2 separate regions of the Homo sapiens genome follow, and region 1 is linked to region 2. The links come from fine-mapping of genetic effects on gene expression. Tissue or cell type: whole blood. Region 2 holds a variant in brackets; the other region holds the start of a gene. All regions are shown on one strand. Distances are between the middles of the regions.

Evidence for each region. PIP is the estimated chance that this variant, and not a neighbour inherited with it, causes the effect.
Region 1: B3GNT2 starts here. The variant in region 2 is fine-mapped to the expression of B3GNT2 in whole blood (INTERVAL, PIP 0.97).

Annotation. Positions count from the first base shown.
Region 1 is chr2:62,193,553-62,198,920 of GRCh38, forward strand. B3GNT2 (UDP-GlcNAc:betaGal beta-1,3-N-acetylglucosaminyltransferase 2) reads left to right here and starts at 2,563. Exons shown (of 2, transcript NM_006577.6): 1 at 2,563-2,803. It overlaps LOC124906013 (a long non-coding RNA gene), which reads right to left and starts at 2,461. Exons shown (of 2, transcript XR_007086336.1): 1 at 1,587-2,461; 2 at 437-1,355. RefSeq lists enhancers at 1,048-1,655, 2,262-2,868, 3,849-3,958 and silencers at 1,949-2,178, 2,469-2,908, 3,089-3,438.
Region 2 is chr2:62,308,867-62,316,477 of GRCh38, forward strand. No RefSeq gene overlaps it. Among named protein-coding and RNA genes, the nearest start is that of MIR5192, 110 kb to the left of the region's middle. RefSeq lists enhancers at 1,032-1,401, 4,838-4,887, 4,948-5,047. The variant C/T (reference allele first, on the strand shown) is at 3,315.

The sequences.
Region 1 (5,368 bases), 120 kb before region 2:
CAAGTAGCTGGGACTACAGGTGTCCACCACCACACCTGGCTAATTTTTTTGTATTTTTTGTAGAGACGGGGTTTTACCATGTTGGCCAGGGTGGTCTTGAACTCCTGACCTCAAGTGATCCGCCCACCTTGGCCTCCCAAGGTACTGGGATTACAGGCATGAGCCACCGTGCCTGGCCTAAGAATACCCTTATTTTTAAATTTCATGGCCTGGGCAGCCTTGGGCAGCGAGGGACACAAGCTTAATTTCCTAGTTGGTTGCCAGCTGACATTGTAGCAGCTCCTTTACTATAAACTCCTTGGCTGGCCGTTCTTGCAAGCATGTCTGTGGCTACAGGGAGTGCATTTAAAGGGAAGACACATATGCATGGAAACAATATACCAATCTGATGGCACAGAAAATCTTCCTTAGATGTCCGCTTTGTCTCAACACTGCATTTAAATATCAGACAGCAGCCTAGAGATATCTTTATTTAAACCCAGGAACATGGACTCAATATTATTTTGATACAGAATGAAGACATAGACTTCATTTATTAATTTATACTCCCTAGAGTTCTTTTTTTTTTTTTGAGACAGAGTCTCACTCTGTCACCCAGGCTGGAGTACAGTGGCACGATTTCGGCTTACTGCAACCTCCGCCTCCCTGAGTTCGGCGATTGTCCTGCCTCAGCCTCCCAAGTGGCTGGGATTACAGGTACATGTCACCATTAATTTTTGTATTTTTAGTAGAAACAGGGTTTCACCATGTTGGCCAGACAGGTCTCGAACTCCTGACCTTGTGATCCACCCGCCTCGGCCTCCCAAAGTGCTGGGATTACAGGCGTGAGCCACCGCGCCCGGCCTCTACTTCCTAGAGTTCTTAGAGAATTTCTAGCTTCTGTTTCTTTAAACATGTTTTATTAGCTTTCTAAATTATGAAAGTAAATACAACTGGAAAAATACAAAATCCAAAGTCAAGGGAGTAAAAAAATGTAACTCCCTTGTTTCCCCTCCCCGCGTAACCGTGGTTAACAGTCGGTGTGCACCCTTACAGATGTTTTTTCTATGAAAATACAAACATTCGACTTGTTTCTTGGACTTTACCTCGCAGTCCGAGGAGAATCATGTGAACAGCATGAAAGCAGCATGGTCCGAAGACTGCAAACCATAACATTTCCATATCTACTGACTCTGAATTCCTGTTTCTAGAGGACCCGCACCCACGTGGCTCTGTGCATCCGCAGCAACTTGGTCTTTCTTCCTTTGCTGAGTTTGGTTAAGGGAAAGGGCCGATTATTGAGTGGGCTCAGTTCACAGGTGCCTGAAATTCCTACTTAGCAATGTTCCTTTCCAGCTGATTCCGCCTCCGAGAGCCTTAGGAAAAAATGCTAACAGTTAGGAGCGAAGCGTCCTTAATTGCTCAGTCCAATTATCTAGATGGGTCCAGGTTCGGTTTCGATTCAGAGATAAGGACCAGGGGGCGGGGACGCTTCCAGGTGAGCCCCTGGTTAGGCTTGCCTCCCCGCGGAGCGCACGCGGGTCTCGCTGGCTGGACTGGGCCTTTCAAGACCAGGTAACTTCTCCATCCGGTATCGCCAGGCTTACCTGGGGGCCTCAGAATTGTGTCAGCTGCGTCTCTGAGTCACCTTGGAACCCCTCGAAGGAGCGCGGGGCTAGGAGGGCGCATCGGTGGGCCCGGGGACCCCGCTGCTAGGTGTGGTTGGCGCCAAGGCCGCCTCTGGCCGGCGGAGCCCTGCAGTGTCCGGAGGGTGCGGTCAGAGTCCGGCCCTTTAGGCCTTGCCTCGGTATCCGCCTTGCCCCTTGGGCCGCGGCACGGGTTCGGGCCGAGCGCCCGGCATCTTGCGTTTCTGGCTTCCTGAGACGGGCGTGGGACCTCGAGGAAACCACTCTGCATGACCCCACGAAGAGAACTAAGGACCACCCCCCACCCTTCCTGTCCTGGACGGCTTCATAAGCCAGAGGATCCAGTGGCAGTACCAAGCAGGGCACCACTCTGGGTCGTGAGCACCTAAGAGGTGGAGCAAAGGTCAGACCCCAGGGTGGCCCAGGCCTCCCTCCCCCGCCTCCCCGGCGGGGCCATTCCTCACCCGCCCCAGCACTGGAGGGGGCGGCCGGGGTCGGTCTAGTTCCGGTTACAAACTGGACAGAAAAGGCCACTGGAGTCTCGCTAGGCGATGCGCCTAGTCCCCTAGCCTCAGACGAACCGCAAGAGGGGCCACCCACAACTGGAGGGGCGGAGGCTGGAGCTGAGTTTCATTAGTGTTTTTGGAGCTGCCAGGCATTTCCAGGGGGGTCGCCTTCCTAGAGGCCCCCTTTCCCCAGCTTAACCCTCGGCTTTGCAGGAGGGTGCGTGGGGGCTGGAGGGTCCCTGGAAGCCGCAGGGAGCGCGGGCCCGGGTGGGTCCTGGTACCGGGTGGGGAGAGCGGAACCCTCCCAAAACTTGGGGCGCGGGGCGGGGCCGTCGGGCGGTGACGTGAGGGGCGGGGCCGGGCCCCATTGGCGGGCGGGCAGGGGAGGGGCGGGGCCGGGCGCCCGCGGCGGCTGCTGCGCCTGGAACCGGAGCCTGGAGTGAGGCGCAGCGGCAGCGGCAGCAGCGGCAACAAGTGCCGGAGGCTAGCAGAGCCAAGCCGGAGCAGTCCCTGCCGCCGACACCGCCGGGCCGCCCGTCCGGGGCGCCGCGCATGGAGCGTGAGCTGCGGCGGTCGCCGGGCTGAGCCGCGCGGAGCGGCCGGGACGTGGATGTGGCCGCGATCTCCCGCCCTTGCCCCCGCCCCGCCGAGCTGGAGCTGCTCCCGGACAAGGTAGGGCCCGGGCGCCGAGCACCCCCGCCGGCTCCCTCCCCGCTGCCCTCTCACCGCCAGGCCCCTCTACCAGTCCCCTTCCGCCTCCCTGCTTCCCGGCCCCACCTTCCGGACACCCTGCTACCCCCGCCCGGTTCCTCGCCGGTTCCGGCTTCGTACCCGCGCCCCGGTGGAGGAAGCCGTCCCTAGGTGGCTCCTGCCGCATTTAAGCCTCCCTTACCTTCCCGCCGTCCCAGCCACCCAACCTCAGCCCAGAGGGAGAGGAGAGGGACACCGCCCGCTGCGGGGCTTTGGAACCTCCCAACCCATTCCGTGCCCACCTCGCCCTGGAGCCCGGGGACCTTCCCCCTCCTCGCTGCACCCCAACTTCCGGGGGATCCGGCGCCGGGGCGATGCGGGCTTTGGCAAGGGGCATCTGGGGCCGGGCCTCCTCATCCGGGGCGCGCGGGCATTTCGGGGAGGGGGGCGCGCGTGATTCCTCGCTCGCACCCCCGCACCCCACCCTCGCACTGCGCCGGCCTCCCGTGCCGCATGGGGAGATCAGGTGTTTTGTGAGCCAAAGAGCCGCCGGCAGCCGCTCCCCACCCCCCACCCCCAACCTCTGCCACTTCTGTCTCCGGCTCCCCCAAAACTGGTTTCTGCCAAACTTAGGGAAAACCTTTCGCTTTGACCTTTTAAAAAAAATATTCCACACTGTTTGCGTTGAATGATTAACCAGGCTGCTAGCCCGAGTCGTGGGGGTGGGGTGGGGCGGGGTGGGGTGGGTGCTGCCAGGCCAGGGAGCGCCTGAAGCCGGACTCTACGAGACACCCCTCGTGGGAAGGTGGGCGTGGGGGGCCCTGCCGGGGCTGCGGGCGCGGGACTGGCGGCTACTCCAGCACGGCAGGCGGACCCTTCTGGAGGCAATAAACCGAGTCACCCGGTTAATTTCCAGGCCACGGTATTTGAAACTCGGGGCTGGGGAGCCGCAGAACTCCCTGTACCCCCATCAAGTAGAGGAGCCGTCGGGAGACTCCCCACAAGTGTCACAGCGTCAAAGCTCATCTTTAAAAATATGTACATTTATAACCTGGGTTGGCGAGGCGGCGCTCTTCTGCCCAAAACGTAGGGGTGGTTAGTTTGTAGAGTGGGCTTAGCTCACAGGTGCCTGAGCTGTATCCCCGTGGCCGCCTCAGCCACCCCAACTTCTCAGAAAGATTGTTTAGAACAATTAAACTATATTCTTTTGCCCTTCTCTTGTTGGAACCCTACCGTAATATCCGATAGCGAAGCCAGTTGGTGAATATAGAATTCTACTTGTTAAAACAAATTCTTCCGGTATAATTATTTGTGCCTCTGGAGGTGGTAAACGAGGTGGCCGACAGGGCCGGGACTGGGAGTGAAAAGGCGGGGACCCTGGCCGAGCCAGTCCCGGGGCTCCGGTGCCGGCTTATAGTCGCACCCATGCGGATCTGACAGCTGACCCGGAGGGAGGACCGGCAGGGCAGGGCAGGGCGGTCACTTCCCATTGTCCTAACTCCTGCTCCTGGTTCTTTTGAGTAGAGGGTGGTTAAGCCTGGAGGAATTTGGGAGAGTTTTACTCGGAGCCCATGCGCTCTTAAACCAGATTAGATTTTAAGAACACAGAAGTGAAGGAGCCCCATAGGGCTGTACTTGAGTAATTTGAGTAATCCTTTTCCTCCCTGCTCAGACTTTACAAATGTGTTTATCATTAGATCTTCTGTTTGAAACTACTTTTTTAGTTCGGAATATTGCTTTTTCTCCCTACAGCAAGGGTTCACTGTTTCTCATTTAGTTTTTGTGCAGGCGGCATTTGTATGATGAAGGCCTAATTCTCTGTGAAACTGACCAGTTCTCACCCTTGCCATTCATTAGACTTGATTCTGCCACATTTAATTCAGTGATCTTGGGCAAGTTATTCTTCACCTGAGCCTCATTTTACACATCTGGTTTTGGGGATGGTGGTGTTTGCTCTGCAAGATTATTTCTGAGGACAAATAGGATGTTTGCCAAACTCCTAGCACTGCACCAGGAGAGCTAAGAAGTGCTTAATAAATGGTGGTCATTGCTGTAATCAATAGAGAAGTTCCTCCTGGCATCGACTTCCCCTTACCAAAAACAGTAACCCTGTGGTAGCCTTTTAGATTTCCCTGTCTGAGACTGAAATCAGCCACATTTGGCAGATGCACATCAGAAGGTTCTTAAAACCTAAGTAGTATTTTGAGGAAAATAAGCATGATTTGCTTGTTGTTCAAAAATTATGAATTTTTTTCTGGGCTTCTGGTGAAGGGCTGAATATATGAAGGTTTGTAGTTTTGAAAATTTTCTTGTTTTAAAGAAAAGTCATGTTTTAGGTTTCTGATAAACTAAAGTTGTGCTAAAAATAGGAAAGTAGAACTGATAATTCATAGTTGATTTTGACTATACTGTTCAGATATGTGGTTTTTTTTAAAAAAAATAGTTGCATTAGTGAGGCATCGTTGGTATGTTCTGAAGAGAAATATGCAGGGCTTTTTCAGCTGATGCAGGGATAAAAGAAAAGGTGAATCTTCTGTTTCTCAAACT
Region 2 (7,611 bases):
TTTTTGTATTTTTAGTGGAGATGGGGTTTCACCATGTTGGCCAGGCTGGTCTCGAACTCCTGATCTCAAGTGATCTGCCCAACTTGGCCTCCCCAAAGTGCTGGGATTACAGGCGTGAGCCACTGCACCCAGCCGAGGTTCATTCTTACACTTAATAAAAATACACATATCAGACAGTCTGCTTGATGATTTATATTTTTTGTAGCTAAGGTCTTGTCAGATCTGAGTAGAGCATCATGTTTTTCAATAATCACAAGAGCTAGCTTTTATTAAGGGCTTACTGTGTCCAGTGCTGTTCTAAGCATGTCACATACTGTATTAATTCACTTAATCCTCACAACTGCCCTCTGAGGTGGCAACTATTATTATCCCCATTTTGCAGATGAGGAAACAGAGGCCCAGGGAGGTCAGATAACATGCCCATATAGCTAGAGAGTGGCAGAGCTGGGGGGAACCCTGTCGGTCTGGCTCCAGAGCCCATTGTATAGCAGCCACCTCTGCCCACCCTGGCCTGGCTAGGCCTCAATGCCAGAAACACACCATTCTCTATCTCCTGGAGGGTAACAGAGCTGCCATTATCCCAGGAGGCAAGGCTGTCCCAAGAGCATAGACCAGTAGTAGGGTTGGTTGCCAGCTTCTAGGTGTCGCCTCAAGGCTCCTTGCTGCTTCAATTATTATTCTAATAGTTCTGAGCTAGGCATGAGGTAATCTGAGCTTTTAGACCTTGGCTATTTCACTGAGGTTTGCTGTGAGGCTTCAGTTTTGTCATCTAAAACAGCACTGTCCTTCTAGAGTTGCTGTGAGGACAGGAGAGGAGTCTGCCAAGCACTTAGCAGGGGCCTGGAGGGCAGAAAGCATTCAGTGATGGGGAGGAGAGGAAAGCTCACAGAGCCTCGGTCCACGTGGCTCAGCTCTGTGCTGGAGCTGCGATGCGGTCAAAAGACCATGAAACAAAACGTGATTTCAAAATAACTCAAGTCTTTCACGTGTGTTTCTCACACCGATAAGTGAACGTAGTCCTTCGTTAGACTGCACTCGATTCTCACGGTGGCCATGTGAGAGGCACAGTTCTTCTTGCACGTCCCCCTCCGTCTTCTCCCACACATGGCTCTCACTTGCTGCAGGGGCTCCCGGTCTGGCTCTCAGTTTCCGTTTCCTCTGATTTTTATCTCACAAATGGCTGGCAGGGCGGGGCTCCTTCCTTGGAGGGTGGGCTCCAGGAGGAACTGAGGAGAGTGTAACCAGGACCCTCATTAGGGGCCATGGGGGTGGGAAAGGTTGGGAACTCGCCAGTCATTTTTATCCCATCACATGAATTATTATTTTTGGCAGAGGAGAAGGTGTCTGTGTTAGTACCACAAACTGTGGCTTAAAATGACAGAAATCTATTCTCTTACAATTCTGGAGGTTAGAAGTCAGAAATCAAGGTGGTGGCAGGGCCATGCTCTCTCTAGAGTCTCTAGGAGAGGGGCCTTCTGAAAAAAGAAAAACTTCAGCTGAATTACATTTAAGAGTTTAATTGAGTTTAATTAAATGAACAATTTGTGAATCGGACAGCCCCCAAATCAAGCGTATTCACAGAGACTCCGGCGCAGCTACATGGTGGAAGAAGATTTATAGACAAAGGGAAATGATGTACAGAAATTGGAAGTGAGGTACAGAATGACCGGATTGGTTACAGCTCAGTGTTTGCCTTATTTGAACGTAGTTTGAACACTCAGCAGAGTATGAATGGTTGAAGTATAGCCTCTGGGATTGGCCAAGACTTAGTTATTGTTACAGGCGCATACTCCTAAATTAGGTTTTCAATTTTGTCTGACTATTAAGCTAGGTTACAGTTCATCCACAAGGACTCAAATATAGAAGTACAGAGTCCTTCTCAGGACATATATAGTTTGCTTTAACACTTCCTTGCCTCTTCTAGCTTCTTATCGTTCCTGGCATTCCTTGGCGTTTCTTGCCTTGTAGACCCATCATATTCATTTCTACCTCCATCTTTATGAGGTCTTTTCCCTGTGTATTTGTGTCCAAACTTTCCTCTTCTTATAGGGACACCAGTCATTGGATTAGGGACCACTCTAGTTGAGTATGACTTTATCCTAACTTGATTGCATCTGCAAAGACTATTCCCAAATAAGGCCACATTCACAGGTTTGGGGGCCAGCATATATCCTTTGGGGGAACATAATTCAACCCAGCCTGTAACAATGTCATATCATTCAGATTGATTCTGAGCTAGCCCATTCCCAGTCTAACATCTCCAAACCTGGTTCCCCTAGACCCTTGAGCTTGTCTGCGACTCTTGTCCAAATGAAGCTGTGAGGCGAGCTGCCCTGCTGACCAATGGCAGGGCCTCCCTTCTGGCTCCAGGCTCTGCACTGAAGTGCAATGGGCCAACCAGGTACTTGCCCAATGCCATGGGTGAAGCCAAGGAGGGCATAGCCAGTAGGAAATATATTCTACAGAAGTGATCACTTTTCAGTTTAAAAAAAAAAAAAAAAAAGGCCGGGCGCGGTGGCTCACGCCTGTAATCCCAGAACTTTGGGAGGCCGAGGCGGGTGGATCACGAGGTCAGGAGATCGAGACCATCCTGGCTAATACGGTGAAACCCCGTCTCTACTTAAAAAAAAAAAAAAAATTAGCCGGGCGTGGTGGCGGGCGTCTGTAGTCCCAGCTACTTGGGAGGCTGAGGCAGCACAATGGCGTGAACCCGAGAGGCGGAGCTTGCAGTGAGCGGAGACCGCACCACTGCACTCCAGACTGGGAGACAGAGCGAGACTCCGTCTCAAAAAAAAAAAAAAAAGTAATTAATTGATATGTTTTAAAGGTATATGTCAACATAATGTTTTATTAAGATTATGAGTGAAATTTTTTCTTCTATGAAGAATCAATGTGAAGTTATGGTTAAAATATCAATCGCTATATCATATTAGGAGATAAAAGAGGAACTATTCAATAACTGAAGCTAGGAAAACATCCATATGGAGAAAAATGAAACTGGGCAATGTCAAAGCATGTCTTCATTGTTTATCTTGGTAGAAAAGATAGAGGACTGTCTTTCTTGGACTAAAGAAGGGAAGAGGCCAGGCACGGTGGCTCACACCTGTAATTCTAACATTCTTGGAGGCCAAGGTAGAGGGATCACTTGAGGCCAGGATTTTGAGACTAGTCTGGGCAACAAAGCAGACCCTGTCTCTATAAAAAAATGTTTTAAATTGTCTGGGTGTGGTGGCATGTGCCTGTAGTCCCAGCTACTCAGGAGACTGAGGTAGGAGGATTGCTTGAGCCCAGGAGTTCCAGGCTGCAGTGAGCTA[C/T]GATTGAGCCACTGCACTGAAGCCTGAGTAAGAGAACAAGACCTGTCGCTAAAAAATATTTAAAAAGAGGGGAAGAATTCTTAAATTAGGTACAAAAAAGTACCAACCAAAAAGAGAACAGATTGATACATTTTATTATTATTATTGACTATTATTGACTATATTAACTATATTATAAAATTGAATATTCACATTCTCTATGACCCAATGTGTGCATCAAGATATATCTATTAGAATACCCTTAGGAGCTCTGTAGATATCAGCAAAAACAAACAAAATCAAACCAGAAACATCCCAAATGTCCACTGACAGGTAAATGAATAAGCAAATTGAAATATTCACACTGTAGAATATTACACAATTAAAGCAATGAACTATAACTACATGCTACACTGTTCTTACAATATAATTATATATAGACTACCTATAACATAATACCTTTCTATCAAGTGTTCTTCATTTATTTATTTTTTGAGACAGGGTCTAACTCTGTCACCCAGGCTGGAGTGAAGTGGTACAACCTCGGCTCACTGCAACCTCCACTTCCCAGGCTCAAGTGATCCTCCCGCCTCAGCCTTCTGAGCAGCTGGGACAGCAGGCACATGCCACCATGCCCAGCTAATTTTTGTATTTTTTTGTAAAGATGGGTTCTTGCCATGTTGCCCAGGCTAGTCTCTAACTCCTGGGCTCAAGCGATCCTCCCACCTTGGCCCCCAAAAGTGCTGGGATTATAGGTGTGAGCCTCTGTGGCTGGCCCTCTAACAAGTTTAAAAACAACTAAAACTAAACATTTATTAAGCATTACGTTAATCAAATATAATTTAACATTAATTAAACATTAATTAAGGATAACACTAATTTAACTATTTTTTAAAGGAAGAAAATTATTAGGACAAAATGGAAGTAAAGGGGTAAAGGGAAGCACACAGGTAAATGTAAGTTATTGTTGATATTTTAGGCCAGGTGCAGTGGCTCATGCCTGTAATCCCAGCATTTGGGAGGCCAAGGCTGGTAGATCACTTGAGCCCAGGAGTTTGAGACCAGCCTGGGCAACACAGGGAGACCTCGTCTCTACAAAAATAATAAAAATTTAAAAAATTAGTTGAGCTTGGTGCACCTGTTACAGGTGCACCTATAGTCCCAGCTATAGCTACTTGAGGTGGGAGGATCACCTGAACCTGAAGAGGTCAAGGTTGCAGTGAGCCGTGATTGTGCCACTCCCCTTGGTACCAGTGAAACCCTGTCTCAAAAAAAAAAAAATTAGATCTTGGGTTGACAGATGTGTTCACAGGTGTTCAGATACATATAATTTTGAAATAAATTAATAAAATAAAAGAAAGCCATGCTAGGAAAAAAGGAAATATCAATGGTCAAGTTGCTAGGCTGTATGCCATGAAGAGCAGTTAGTCAAAGAGAATCACCTTTTCAGATGTGCCCTATCGCCCACCAGCCAGTAGTGGACAGCTCCCTGTCATGGGATAACCTGGCTGTGCTTCTCCTGGAACTTGGGCCTTACCATCTGGGAGTCCCCATTTAGTTGAGAAGCTGCAGAGGGAGTTTATTTCTGTGGCCTTGTAATGGGGCACACCTTCTGTTTGGGGGGGAAGTTCCCTCCTGTTCCAGGGAGATCATGAAGCAGCAGCTGCGTTGGCAAGGGCAGAGAAGATGTCCTAGTGATGGCTATTAAGGGGTCCCTCCCTTGCAGAAAAGGATTAGTGTCCAGCTAGCAGAGAAACACTTGCCAGGTACTTAATAGGTTCTATTTGATGGTAGTAGAAGCTCTCCCCAACACACATGCCCACTCAGCCAGGGAGAAGGTAGCAGGAAGGAAGGAGGCCCCCTGAGTATTGTGACCACAGAGATAGCCTGCCCCTGCAACCACACCCACACACTGAGGTTTCACCAGGGTGTAGGGGAGTGGTGGTTAAAAGACAAGAGAAGAGTCAGATACTATTATCTCCAAGTTTTGCTCCAAAATATGAGCTCTGAAAGTGAACGTGAGGACCCATTTCCATCTGTCCCCTACCCCATTCTACTCCCAGGTATAAGTTGCTTACCAAGATGAATAATGAGGGTTCTTTACAGCTTGTAAAATACTTTTTTAAAACATCATCACATTTGGTCCTCCTTAAAAAAAACCCAGTGGGGGTGGTTATCGTGCTTACCTTTATTTTTTAGATGAAAAAAAAAACTGAGGCTTGGAGAGGATCAGCGACTTGTCTAAGGTGATAGACTTGGAGGCAGAGATGAGAGGAAGGCTTCTGACTCCCTCTTATGCCATGTTCCCAGAGGGAGTGCCCAAAAACATGCTGTCTCAGCAGGAAGCAGCCACTACCCAAAAGCAGAATGGGAGGAAAGGAACAGGGGCCACATTTGGTCCTTACTAGCCAGTGCAGAAATGATGGTACTGGAAGGAGATATTTAGAGAGTGGCCCTTCTGTCACCTGATCCAAAGGCCAGGAATTGAAGGAGCTATGTCCTAGAGCAGCAGAGTTCTGTTAATTTGTTGTCTGTGCCTTCTGTATAATATCACTTTGTGCCCCTGGATATGCTGTTTTCTCCAGTGAGTCTAGGGAAGGAACTCTGAGGGATCATTTCACTGTCACTAAAAAACAAAACAAAACAAAACAAAAAAAAGTTTAAAAGGGATGCTTCAAAGTTTGATGCTCTAGTTGTTTTTAATCAAGCAGGGATTGCTCATTGTAAAAGTAATTTGGGATAATATAATCAAATAAAAAGTAGAAAAAAGAGTCACACCACCCAGGGATAATCACTTGTCCATCACCAACTTATCCCTGGCAGGGAATCTGCAGACAACATAGCACTGTTACCTCCCTTTGAGGCCTCAAATAATTTCTAACAGAAAGAGGCTGTTTTTGCTTAGGATGCAGATGAATAAAGAACAGAACTCCTCAGGCCGGGTGCAGTGGCTCACGCCTGTAATCCCAGCACTTTGGGAGGCCGAGGCAGGTGGATCACAAGGTCAGGAGATCGAGACCATCCCGGCTAACACGGTGAAACCCCGTCTCTACTAAAAATATAAAAAATTAGCTGGGCATGGTGGCGGGCGCCTGTAGTCCAAGCTACTTGGGAGGCTGAGGCAGGAGAATGGCATGAACCCGGGAGGCGGAGCTTGCAGTGAGCTGAGATCGTGCCACTGCACTCCAGCCTGGGTGACAGAGCAAGACTCCACCTCAAAAAAAAAAAAAAAAAAAAAAAAAGAACAGAACTCCCATCCAAACGGTGAGAAAAAGACGTATAATCTACAAATCATACCTTTTCTTGAACTCGTCAGAGAGCTGAGGTCGCAAGGCAATGAAATGAACTGAATTCCAAAGAGTAACTATCCCCCGTGAGAAGAAATAGGGAACAGGGGCTATTTTACCTTTGCCCAGGACTGGCTACATCATTTACAGATTTATAGGACCCAGTGAAAAATATGGGGAACTTCTGAGCACAGGGCACTGTGTGACTGCACAGCTTGGATACCATGAGGGGGGTCCTGTCTTTGGCAGAGAACAGAAGGAAGTGGCCACCACCGGTGTTGGTAAAAAGGAAGGAACTCAAATGTCTTGGATTCCCGAAGACTAAGTATGGATTAGCATTCAGTTTATTTATTAATTTATTTTTGAGACAGAGTCTTGCTCTGTCACCCAGGCTGGAATGCAGTGGTGCAATCTTGGCTCACTGCAACCTCCTCCTCCCAGGTTCTAGTCATTCTCATGCCTCAGCCTCCCAAGTAGCTGGGATTACAGGCCTGCACCACCATGCCTGGCTAATTTTTGTATTTTTAGTAGAAACAGGGTTTCACCATGTTGGCCAGGCTGGTCTCAAGACTCCTGACCTCAAGTGATCTGCCTGCCTCAGCCTCCCAAGGTGCTGGGATTACAGGCGTGAGACACTGCACCCGGCGCGTATCAGTTTAGAATGACTGGGAGCCCCAGAGAGAAGGGGAGTTTGTCACTACAAGCCCTTTTCCATGGGCCTCCACTAGGTGCTCATGAGAAAAAATGGGGATAGGGCAAGAGCCCCATGCTTGATGGTGCAGGCATTCAAGATGATGCAGGCAACCCTACGCCAGGGTGTAGCCAAGAAGTGGGTGGGGACTCACTTCCAAAGACTCCTCTTTCATCAAGTAAAAGCATCAAGCAGCTAGAAGAATGGCAGCAAACAGTTTCCACCCCAGAGCCACAGGTGTAGAAGCAGAGTCTGGCTGCCTTTGGGAAACAGTAGGAAACTCTCATTCTACACTGGCAAGGGCAAAGATCCACTGCTTCTGGGATAAGAGTCAAAGCAA